Regions from separate parts of the Homo sapiens genome. Here regions 2 and 3 are each linked to region 1. The links come from fine-mapping of genetic effects on gene expression. A gene starts in region 1. Each other region holds a variant in brackets. All regions are shown on one strand. Distances are from middle to middle.

Region 1 (4,352 bases):
CCTTCCTTACCAAAAATACATCTTCATAGCTAACTTTTTTCACATCTCTCCTACTTACTGGTTTTCTACCTTCTTTCATAACTAACCTTTAAATAACATCCAAATTAAATAAAATTATTCTTTTTCTCCATAAGAACACATTTATTTGGCACATTTTATATATAGAATTCTATATTAACTAAAATTCTTACTCTTAGTAACCTTAAATTTTAGTGAAAACCTAGGAGGCAAGAAATATTGAATTGTCTGTTCTCTATCAGCACTTTAAAGATGAGAATCACGTCACAATTTTTAGAAACGTGTTTCTGGCCAAGCATGGTAGCTCATGTCTGTAATCCCAGCACTTTGGGAGGCTGAGTTTACATTCTCCCCTTTTAGCCAAGATGTGCCAGAGATGACATTGGTGACCAAACATTTATTTTTTCCCATATCTTTGCCGGGGTGGTGTGGCTACCTGCTGCAGGTTCATTCTGTTCTTTGGTGGGATCCTTATGGCCAAGGGACTTGGAGCCAATTAAACATTCTAGGCCAGATGAGGATGGAGGTGAACAGGCACTCATTAACCCTTAAAAACCTTTTGAGCAACAGAAGAGCCAAAAAGCAAGGTTACAACAGTGACTTACCTGTAAGTTCTATGTGACGAGTCATCAGCTGTTTAGTAACCTGTATGACCTGTTAACCATTTTTGTAGCCTGTGAATATCAGATGTTCATTTAAGTCAGAACCTTAAACATGTGGATATTTTTGCCAACAACTCAGAAGCTAACAAAACAGCTAACAACTTAGCTGTTTTCATTGAACCAACAATATTAAATTAGTCTTATTTGTCAAAAAATTCACACAAAGATCATTCTCTTTTTGACTGGGTTTATAGTCTTATAATCTTTTGTGCCAAATCCTGATACCTTAAAACACCTAGCGGAGGCAAATATAAAATAATCAGTAAACCCAGACTAAAAAAAAAATGTATGCTGACAATTCTGAAGACATTTCTAGTTTTATTTTACCAATAATTTTAAAACCATTTTATTTACCAGATTACTAAGTTCACATGAATCTGAAAAGTATTTGGACTTACTTAATTTATGAGTATAATTTACTTATAAACCAGTTTGGTACCATGCTAGATACAACACAACATAATACATGTTCATATACAAACATTTAAACACATACACACAAAGATCTTACAGCTTTTACTCTGGAACCTTAGCCATGAGATGGTAATACAGACTCACCACTTAACAAAAGACAGCTGGATCCAAATTATTTCTGACAAAATTGGGACCTGTTCACATGGCTAAACTTTATTTGTCCCAGTAGGTAATCCAATGAAGGCTATGGACCAAAGTCTTGGGAAAAGTAGTTTTCATGGCAGTTTTATTTTTAAAAACCTTTTACCCCTTTTTTTTTTCCTGAAGTTTCAAATGAGTTTTCAGTGTTTACATTTTAGCTACAATTGGCTGAACTGTAAAGAAAGCTCCAAGTAGCCTTGAATTAGTAGTATCATAAACAATGAGTTTTATCTTAACAGCAGTAGCTTAATAACAGCAAATTCAAAGCAGGCCGAAAACAAAAAAGAGATAGCTTTAGAAAACTCTACATTTTAATTGTATAGTTGCAGGTTGGGCATTTGAGCTCTGAATTTTCCTTGCTGTAATTTGCCCGTTCAGTTTTAAAATGTGCACAAGAACAGGCCACAATATGCAGCTAGCTGAAGTGCTGGAAAACCTGGCATGCCTTTGAACTTCTACAGGAGTTCCTGCCCCTAGTGGGTAAGTTACCTATTGCACTGACTTTATGAAGATATCTCTTCCAGTGCCCTTAGTGTGAGCATCCCCACAAACCTTATGAACCAGTTGAATCCAACCTGAATGCCTCTCCATAAGCCCGGAGCCCACAAATGCATTTTCTCCAGGGCCCTTGGATGGAGGGAATCAGGAAGGCCTCCTCCAAACCCAAGGCTAGGAGAGATGTTCCCTCCGGGGTCCAGGGAGGAGAACAGAAAGGACTGAGAAGAACTAGGAATGCCCTCCCAAACCCAAGGCCAGCAGGAGGGTCTCCTCCGGAGTTCCACAGATGGAGGAGGCCTAAAAGAAGAAATCAAGTCTGCAACCTAAAAGTGGGAGATCTTGGATTTTGATAGCACTTACCCAGATCCTTTCCCAGCATAGTCAGGAACAACTGGACTTTTTCAAAGGGACCTTGGCTGTACCTGGTGTCCTGGGTGACACAGGAAAAGGAATTCAGGGGCTGCTTCAGAATCCCATCTTTGCCAGATACGTTAACTTTAAAAAAAAAATCATAAGATACAAATTTAGAAAAATGGAGACACTATTTCTTAAGGGTGACAGCCTGCCAGGTGGCCATCCTGCAGGCCAGGAAGCACAGCCTCCTCCAGCAGAAGCCCAGAGACAGGCACCTCCAAGGAGGAGGGGTTGGGGTAGGAGTTTTATGCTTTTATGCTGAATGGGTTGGCTTAACACATATTCAACAGGTTACAGGAGGAGCTATGAATATTAATGAAAGTGGTCCTGATGCATGCATATTAAACATGCATCTTACATATGACACATGTTCACCTTGGGGTGGAGACTTAATATTTAAATATTGCAATCAGGCCCTATACATCAAAAGGTCTATTCAGGACATGAAGGCACTCAAGTATGCAATCTCTGTAAACCCGCTAGAACCAGTCATGGTCGGTGGGCTCCTTACCAGGAGAAAATTACCGAAATCACTCTTGTCCAATCAAAGCTGTAGTTATGGCTGGTGGAGTTCAGTTAGTCAGCATCTGGTGGAGCTGCAAGTGTTTTAGTATTGTTTATTTAGAGGCCAGTGCTTATTTAGCTGCTAGAGAAAAGGAAAACTTGTGGCAGTTAGAACATAGTTTATTCTTTTAAGTGTAGGGCTGCATGACTTAACCCTTGTTTGGCATGGCCTTAGGTCCTGTTTGTAATTTGGTATCTTGTTGCCACAAAGAGTGTGTTTGGTCAGTCTTATGACCTCTATTTTGACATTAATGCTGGTTGGTTGTGTCTAAACCATAAAAGGGAGGGGAGTATAATGAGGTGTGTCTGACCTCTTGTCCTGTCATGGCTGGGAACTCAGTTTCTAAGGTTTTTCTGGGGTCCTCTTTGCCAAGAGCGTTTCTATTCAGTTGGTGGAGGGGACTTAGGATTTTATTTTTAGTTTGCAGCCAGGGTCAGTACATTTCAGTCACCCCCGCCCAGCCCTCCTGATCCTCCTGTCATTCCTCACATCCTGTCATTGTCAGAGATTTTACAGATATAGAGCTGAATCATTTCCTGCCATCTCTTTTAACACACAGGCCTCCCAGATCTTTCTAACCCAGGACCTACTTGGAAAGGCATGCTGGGTCTCTTCCACAGACTTTAAGCTCTCCCTACACCAGAATTTAGGTGAGTGCTTTGAGGACATGAAGCTATTCCTCCCACCACCAGTAGCCTTGGGCTGGCCCACGCCAACTGTGGAGCTGGAGCGGGAGGGAGGAGTACAGACATGGAATTTTAATTCTGTAATCCAGGGCTTCAGTTATGTACAACATCCATGCCATTTGATGATTCCACCACTCCTTTTCCATCTCCCAGAAGCCTGCTTTTTAATGCCCGCTTAATATTATCAGAGCCGAGCCTGGAATCAAACTGCCTCTTTCAAAACCTGCCACTATATCCTGGCTTTGTGACCTCAGCCAAGTTGCTTGACTATTCTCAGTCTCAGTTTCTGCACCTGTCAAATAGGGTTTATGTTAACCTAACTTTCAGGGCTGTCAGGATTAAATGAGCATGAACCACATAAAATGTTTGGTGTATAGTAAGTGTACAGTAAATACTTCCATTATCAGTCCCTGCAATTCTATTTTTCTTCCTTCTCTACACAGCCCCTGTCTGGCTTTAAAATGTCCTGCCCTGCTTTTTATGAGTGGATACCCCCAGCCCTATGTGGATTAGCAAGTTAAGTAATGACACTCAGAGACAGTTCCATCTTTGTCCATAACTTGCTCTGTGATCCAGTGTGCATCACTCAAACAGACTATCTCTTTTCTCCTACAAAACAGACAGCTGCCTCTCAGATAATGTTGGGGGCATAGGAGGAATGGGAAGCCCGCTAAGAGAACAGAAGTCAAAAACAGTTGGGTTCTAGATGGGAGGAGGTGTGCGTGCACATGTATGTTTGTGTTTCAGGTCTTGGAATCTCAGCAGGTCAGTCACATTGCAGTGTGTCGCTTCACCTGGCTCCCTCTTTTAAAGATTTTCCTTCCCTCTTTCCAACTCCCTGGGTCCTGGATCCTCCAACAGTGTCAGGGTTAGATGCCTTTTATGGGCCACTTG
Region 2 (4,352 bases), 44 kb after region 1:
GCAGTGTGTCCCTGCCAGCTCACCCGTGCCTCCTCCTTTTCTGGCTGCCTGCAGAACACAGCCCCAGGAGAAACAAAACCAAACAGGGTGAGAGCAGAGCAGACCACAGATGCTTTTCCTCTTGGCCCCCTTGGCCTCCGGCACTGCCACAGTCACACAGGCTTTGCCTGCCCTCAGCCTCTGCTTCTTCGGGTACCTTGCCTGCAGGTGCATTGGGGCAGGGTTTTTCTGTTGGGCCAGGTTCAGCCTGTATTGCACTTTGTTGTTGAGTTGGTGTTGGTTTTCATTGTTGTTGTGGAGAGTGGCATTGACTGATTGGAAATAGCAGAACTGCTCCTGCACCAGCCTCACTCCCGCTCTGACACTACCCCAGGGCTCCCGCCAGGTCCCCCACCCTCTGCCTGCTCCCTCTGTTGGCTCTGGGGGTGCCACTGCACCTCCCCACCCTGCTCCGGGCCCTCAGTGGTGGTCATGGCCTTCCTTCCGGGCCTCTGCTCTCACACTGTCGTGACTCTCATGACCAGCTCTCGGCTGCTGCCTGGGGGACTTCGCTGTTCATGAGGTCTCAAGTGACTCAGGATGTGCAGGATGGTATAAGCACAGTGGTGATGGGACAGAGGGCCTGAGGGGTGGCCGGCAGCCTGGGCAGGGCCCTGCTCAGGGGCAGGGGTGCCTGCGGTCTCCTCTTCCGAGGAGGGGATATTGGCCTGGGTGGATGAGGAGGTCCGGGGGTTGGTCCTGCCTCCTGCCTTTTGATCCTCCAGGTCTTTTGTCTTGTCATAGTTCAGCACTTTCCACTGCTGGTTGACAGCCTGCCACCGTTTAAAGATGCGGTACACCGAGGGTCCTTCATGGATGATGAGACCTGAGGCAGCAGGGAGAGGAGAAACAGAGGCCAAATGAGAGGAAGTGGGTCACGGCCAGGAGACCACAGTCTCTCTGAATCTATGCAAGGTATGGGCAATGGCTCCAGTGCTGAGCCATGGGAGGACCATCCCTAGATTCCCAGGCTCAGCAAGTTCCAGTAGGCAGAAGGTGGAGGGGCCACCAGACCGAGTCCATGAAATAGTTGAGCACCTTCAGGCAGTGCCTTCGCCCACTTCTACACCACCCCACCCCCTTCCTGCCTCGACAAAATCCAAATTCATCCACTAAGGCATAATATAAATATCTTTTCCTCCCTCTATTATGTATCCATGGCACCCAGTCCTTAGCAGATGTTGAATGAATTGTGTGCTTTTAAAGCACCACAAAAGAAAACCCATGGTTTCTCCACACCTGCTAAAGGTTGCTAGAAATCCCACTGGTTAACTCTTTGCATGGATACCCCAGTACTACTGAGATACAAACAGCCCTTTGATGCAGTTATATCTGCCAGAGGCAGTGATAGAGTTGGAAACAAGTTACACCAGGCAGCAAGGCAAATAAATAATCATTGTGTGCCTATTGTGTGCCAAGCACTGGGGATACTGCAGTCGGCAGGACACCCTCTGAGAGCTTACATCTTCATGGAGACACACAATAGACAAACAAACCAAAGTGACAATTTCAGGTGCTGACAATTGCCTTAAGGAAGATAACTGGGGTTAAATATCCACTGGCTGCAGGCACTGAGATCCTGTTTTAGCAAGGGTGGTGGGAAAGGCCTTTTGGAGGAGATCATATCTGAGTTGAGACTTAAGTGATGAACAGGAGAGATCCATGCAAAGATCTGGAGAGAGAGCACTTCGGTGGAAGGAACTCCAAGTGCAAAGGCCAGGAGCTGGGAATGGAATGAACAAGGTCAGAGAGAAGGTCAGTGTGACCAATACAGTGCAGCAGTGAGGAAGTGGAGGGAGGTAAGTTGAGCAGAGGCCAATGGATGGTAGGGTCTTATAGGCCATGGCTAGGGATTTGCATTCTATCCTGAGTATAATGGGAAGCTATTGACGGTTTCAGTAGGGGGAATGATGTGATCTGATTCACCCTTCATAAAGCCACCTGTGGCACCTGTGAAGAGGGCCAAGAGAATGAGTGGAAAGCCAAGCAGGAAGCAGTGATGTCATGCGGGTTGGAAATGGTGATAGCATTGACTAGGGTCATGGTGGTGGAGCAGTGAGAAACTGCTGGAGTCAGGCTGTGTGCTGGAAGTAGAGCTGAAGACTTGCTGACTCGCAGGGTGGGAGTGAAGAGAAAGATCTGGACAACTTCGAAGCTCTTGGCCTCAGCAGCTGCATGAATGGGAAGCCATTTCCTGAGAAGTGGAGGGCACCAGAGGCGGGCTATGGATTTGTGTGGTGGCTGCGGTGACCGGATTCATTTCCTATTGCTGCAGTGACAAAATACCACACATCTAGTAGCTTAAAATGGGATGCATGTTTCTCTTACAGTTCTGGAGATCAGAAGTCTAAAATCAGTCCCACTGGGCTGACGTGAAAGTGTCAGCAGGGCACCTTCTGGTTCTTTCTGGAGGCTTTGAGGGGGAAGAATCTGTCTTCTTGCCTTTTTTCAGCTTCTAGAAATTGCAATTTCTGCCTCGTTCTTGCATCACTCCAGCCTCTTTCTTCTGTTCTCACCTCTCCTACTACTCTTCTGTCATCAGATCTCCCTCTCCTTCTTGTAAGAACACTTGTGGCTACATTTAGGGCCCACCTGAATAATCCAGGATACTGTCCCCATTTCAAG[T/A]TCCTTAAATTAATCACATTGGCGAAGTCCTTTTCCATATAAGGTAACATTGACAGGTTCAGGGATTAGGACCTGGATGTCTTTGGGGCCCATGATTCAAGCCTATCAGAGTGATTACTAGCTACATTTTGGTCATGGTTAGTTTAAGGTGTCTGATAGAAATCTAACTAGAAGGGTCAGATGGGCAACTGGACATATGAGTCTGAAGCTTAGGGAGAGGTCTGGCCTGGAGATAGAAGCCATCATTGTAGAGGTAGAACTTGAAGACTTGGAAATGGCTGAGACCTCTTAGGGAAGAGAAGAAGGCCAAAGACAGAGCCCTGGACTTCAGGTGTTTAGAGGCTTGGTGGAGGCTTTGGTGGAGATAGGGCCAATGAATGAGGCTCAAAAGAAGCAACCAATGGGGTAGAAGCAAGACCAGCAAGTGTGGAGACCCAAAAGCCTAGGGAAGGATTCAGAAAGAGTGCAGTGACTCTTTACAATGTTATCAAGAGGTCAGCTTGAGTAAAATGGGAAATGACCACCAGTTCCATGGGCACAGAAGGAGGGAGAATGATAGAAATGACAGCAAGAAAATCAGGTAGTTCTCATCCAAGTACACATATATTTTTTTTCCCATGAAGTCATCAGCTAAGATAGAAGAGATAAGAGAGGAAGTGTTAAAGATTTGTGGAGAGAGGAGAAGGTGGGAAATAATTATCTCGGAAAGTAGGAGTGTGAATTTACAAGGGAGATGTGGTAGAATTAGCTCACTGTGTTAAGTATCCATTTGAGATTTGTAGCCATAAATCTGAAGTGAATCTAGTTACTGGTTGTGTGATTTTTCTCCACCCCTTCAAACTGCTTGCTCAGGTGCACATGTGGAAGAAGAAGAAACCTGGGCTTAATCAGGGTAAACGGTTTCCCTGGGCAAACAGACATGAGAATTATATGTACTTGCAAGAGAGTGATTATCAGGCTGGACCATGGAGCCCAGGCTGGGGATGAGAATACGAAAGGTATAAGGAATAATGAAAAGTGGAAAGTGAGAGAGTCAAGGCCAAGTCTTTATGAGGTTAGAGGATTATTGGAGTCAGTGAATGGGGGGTGATGGTCGGAGAGTGGGATGTTTAAATCCAGATTTTGGAGGTGGTGTGGTTACTAGCAATTATGAATCTAGGATGTGACTATTTGATTGGGGCTGGAGTGTGCTGGAGGAAAAGATCTTTGGAGCAGGGAATTGGAAAGACTATCTGCATCAGCCATCCTCAATGCTATCACACCAAACATCCCCTTTTTATAACAAATATATTTTAACATCATCATTCCCATCCTGAAATGAAATTCATAGCTACTATGTCTTTTAAATTAATATAATGCCCTAAAAGAGAATATAAAATAAAAATAATAAAGGGAAATCTTTTATAACAAAACAATATACATTTCAGTGAAAATGCTATGGTACAACTACATTAGGAAACGGACAAACAAATGAACAAACCCCAGATATTTCCAAATGCCTCCGGGGTACAGGCCCATCTCTGCCAAGCACTGATCTATGTAGTGCTGAGGACAGGAGTAGGGGGAGTGTATGAGCAGGTGCGTGAGGGTATCTGAGGACTGAGTAGGCAGCCAGTATCCAACAGCATCCAGAAGGGAAAATGGGTGGTAAAGAAAGATGCACTTCGCCTAGGCGCAGTGGCTCATGC
Region 3 (4,000 bases), 76 kb before region 1:
CTTTCTTTCTCATTAGTGTTTAGTGTATGTGCAGCTGCCTTTCATGGAAGACTTGCGGCAATACATGTTTTCATCCTTGAAAAACAGTAAGAAATATGCTCCCACCGGTGAGTTTGTTTTCATTTAGATCACTCATTGACTACACACACTGTTCTTGGGAAATCACCTGTCTGCTAGTTGTTGGTTGGGGCTAGGTATTTATAGGGTGCAATTAGTTGGATTTCCAATCATACACTTAGACACAGTAATGATGAAGGTGGTTTACTTGGTGTTTTTCCAGTAGTAGGGATAGGTTTGCCTTAAACTCACCCAACACTGTCTAGTTTTTGCCTTGGAGCATGTACCTAGGGGAAAGCTTGATGGTAATGGATGTCCATCTCTAGTTGTGAGCAGAGTTTGCCCCTGCCGAAGTGAATCTGAGCAGTATCAAACCTGTGACTTTAGTGTTCTGTGTAAAGTCTGATGTAGCTTTGAAATGAAAAGTGACAGTGCTGAAGATTAACTTTTCTCTTTGCCCTGTTTTTGTAGTTTGCACCAACAGTCCAAGTCTCATTGTTACTTATTTCTGGCTTTTAGGAGTTACTTCAGGCTTGATGTGAAAGCTCCTGATTGAGCATCTGGCTGCAAATGTCAGGGTCCTATATAGAATTATTCTTAGAGCCACAGGTCCAGTCTTCCAGAGAGCCTGTCATTTAAAACAATTGTAATAAAATATAATAGGGGGCAGAAGTAGAAAACATACCAAAAAGAACAACAAATGATGAGTAGATGTTTTAGGTTACAAGTTTATATATAATGTCTGTGTCTGTGTTAAGATTAGGGAATTGTGAGGTGAGTCTCGGAACTCAATTCTTTCTGTTATTTTGGCTAGACCCTTTGGAAGTAGTGTGCTATAGAAAGGCCAAGAATCAGATGGGTCCCTAGGGCCTGTATCTTTATCTTCCTTCTAGAAATGAGTCTGTCTGCATCACGGTGGAGGCAGGCATGGACCTGATTATATGGAAGTTGCCACTGTATTACAGTATTACTCTGTCTCTATTTCCTGATAATTCCAAAATTTAAATGAGTAGAATATTTAATTATTTATTTATTTGAGACAGGGTCTCACTCTGTCACCTGGCTGGAGTGCAGCGGCGTGATCATAGCTTACTGGAGCCTCAAACTCCCTGTGTATTAGTTCATTTTCATACTGCTGATAAAGACATACCCGAGACTGGGAAGAAAAAGAGGTTTAATTGGACTTACAGTTCCACATGGCTGGGGAAGCCTCAGAATCTTGGTGGGAGGCGAAAGGCACTTACATGGTGGCAGCAAGAGAAAATGAGGAAGAAGCAAAAGTAGAAACCCCTGATAAACCCATCAGATCTGGAGTGAATAAATCTATAGACTTATTCACTATCATGAGAATAGCACAAGAAAGACCAGCCCCTCTGATTCATTTACCTCCCCCTGGGTCTCTCCCACAACATGTGGGAATTCTGGGAGATACAATTCAAGTTGAGATTTGGGTGGGGACACAGCCAATTCTGGCTCAAGCAATCCTCTTGCCTCGGCCTCCTAAGTAGTTGGGACTACAGGTACGCGCCACCGTGGCTGGCTCATTTTTAAAATTGTTTGTAGAGATGGAATCTCACTATGTTGTTGTGGCTGGTCTTAAACTCCTGGGTTCAAACAATCCT[C/T]ACATCTCAGCCTCCCAAACTGTTGGAATTATGGGTGTAAGCCATCACGTCCAGCCCAGAATATTTTTAAAAACCCAGTTTATTGATAATTTATTTTGTCGACATAAATCACTCAGGATCTGAAACATTAAATATCTTCTGTTATCTATTTTCTGTGAGTTAACATTTGTTTACATTTTCTCCATTGGAAAAATGGAACATTAAAGTTATTTCATGTATTTCCCAGTAGATGTCTATGTAGGAATGCAATGCCAGGATGATCTGGCCTCCTGCTACCTTGTAGTAGTAGGTGAAAATCACTGAATGTTCACATGTACAAGTACTGCCCCCTACCTGTTGCTGGGAGGGCCTTGAATTAGCAAGTTCAAGATGGTGTTGGCTGTGCCATTGCCTGAAACCTCCATGGTTTCACCATGAAAAGTCCATAAATGGGTAAAAAAGAAATATCTGATGATAAATATCTGTATGCTCTTTTATTTTGTTGTAGCTGTACAAAAGGGATATTTGAAAAGGTGCAGAATAGAAGTATAATGTACTTTTTAGGAACTACTTACTCTTTTCCACCTTTTGCCTGGTGACTGTGAATGTTCCAGAAATAGTGCCTCAGGTTCAACAGCTGAACTGCTGTATGAATCAGTAAAATGAAAGTTACACACAGTAGTTTAGGCAGAAGTATTTTTGGGAGAATTGCCTTTCGTCCATATTGCTTTGGGCTGTACCATTTTTATTGACTGAGTAGATTTTTATTGAGGAGCACTTGTTTTTTATTAGTATTAGGAGAGACCTAAGGAAAGAGGATGTCGTATTTCTGCTCTCATGGAACTTGAGAGTTTGAATGGAGTAGGGCAAGACATGTACGCAGGTGTGAGTAGTGTCATGGAGGCATTAAGAGAGGAGAGAGCTTATTCAGCCTCAGTAGATTGTGAAGGAATCAGCTCACCCTGATCCAATGGTGTCTTCCTGTTAAGGTGCTGTACTCTGATAAAAGTTATATTAAAGTCATTAAAATGCTTATGCTTCATTACCAGAGAGGTTTTTTCTTTTTAATGTTTTTCTTCTTTAGCTAATTACTAGTTTTTAAAATATTAGCTCAATGGATACTAAATATTTTGTTCCAGTCTCCTTATAGGGATTGGTTTTTATATGGCTGTATTCCTCTGAAACAAACTTTCTTGCTTTTGATCTGATACTCCATTGTCAGAGGCTCACTGAATGGTAGAACTGGAACCTAATCAGTCAGTCACTCTAAATCGATCTTTTCATGGATAAGAAAACCAAGACTTGGGTTAAATACGTGCATAGCTAGAGAATACTTTGGCAGGGCCAGGACTGTATAACCTGCCAATATTGCCGTGGATATCTCTACGTAGAAAGCATTTGTTTTAGTGGAGAATAATGGAAATAATCATTTTTCTTTCGGCTTCTCTGTTTAAGAGGCACAGTTGAATGCTGTTGATGCTTTGATTGACTCCATGAGCTTGGCAAAGAAAGATGAGAAGACAGACACCCTTGAAGACTTGTTTCCAACCACCAAAATCCCAAATCCTCGATTTCAGAGATTATTTCAGGTAAGAGAAGAAGGATGAACAAGTCATATTTCTTTTAAATGAAAGAGAGCTAAGTGCAAAGTTGCGGTAATTGGCCAGTCCTAAATAAATGTCTTTTTTCTCTGAAGGCCCCATTTGCTCTATTTAATGGAAGAATAACATCTTCCTCTCCTACTTCAGAAGGTAAAAATATTCTGAGCTCTTAAAAAGAAAAATAAAGTTGGAATGCTTTCTTTCTTTTCTTTTTTTTTTTTTTTTTTTTTTTTTTCCTGGAAGAAGCTTACTTTAACAAAAAAAATACAGGAAGGCCAGTTGCCTATGCTGGAGTGCAGTGTTGTGATCATAGCTCACTATAGCCTCAAACTCCTGTGCTCAAGCACTCTTCCCGCCTCAGTCTCCTGAACAGCTGGGATTGCAGGCACATGCCACCATGCCTGGCTCATTTGTAAAAATTTTTGTGAAGACAAGTCTTGGCCACGTGCGGTGGTTCATGCCTGTAATCCCAGCACTTTGGGAGGCTGAGGCAGGTGCATCACTTGAGGTCAGGAGTTCAAGACCAGCCTGGCTAACATGGTGAAACCCTGTCTCTACCAAAAAATAAAAAAATTAGCCGGGCATGGTAGCACGTGCCTGTAATCCGAGCTTCTCAGGAGGCTGAAGTGGGAGAATTGCTTGAACCTGGGAGATGGAGAGTGGAGTTAGCCGAGATCACGACCCTGTACTCCAGCCTGGGCGGCAGAATGAGACCGAGTCTTTAAAAAAAAAGAAAAAAAA

What was found. PIP is the estimated chance that this variant, and not a neighbour inherited with it, causes the effect. A credible set is the group of variants that fine-mapping cannot tell apart.
Region 2: its variant is the best candidate, but not a certain one, in a credible set for the expression of LINC01963 in esophagus mucosa (GTEx, PIP 0.56).
Region 3: its variant is the best candidate, but not a certain one, in a credible set for the expression of LINC01963 in skeletal muscle (GTEx, PIP 0.65).

The regions. Positions count from the first base shown.
Region 1 is chr2:216,214,384-216,218,735 of GRCh38, forward strand. LINC01963 (long intergenic non-protein coding RNA 1963) reads left to right here and starts at 2,506. Exons shown (of 1, transcript NR_037701.1): 1 at 2,506-4,352.
Region 2 is chr2:216,258,815-216,263,166 of GRCh38, forward strand. It overlaps MARCHF4 (membrane associated ring-CH-type finger 4), which reads right to left. Exons shown (of 4, transcript NM_020814.3): 4 at 1-865. The coding sequence ends at 498. Among named protein-coding and RNA genes, the nearest start is that of MARCHF4-AS1, 42 kb to the right of the region's middle. The variant T/A (reference allele first, on the strand shown) is at 2,665.
Region 3 is chr2:216,138,073-216,142,072 of GRCh38, forward strand. It overlaps XRCC5 (X-ray repair cross complementing 5), which reads left to right. Exons shown (of 21, transcript NM_021141.4): 12 at 17-107; 13 at 3,114-3,247. Among named protein-coding and RNA genes, the nearest start is that of XRCC5, 31 kb to the left of the region's middle. The variant C/T (reference allele first, on the strand shown) is at 1,680.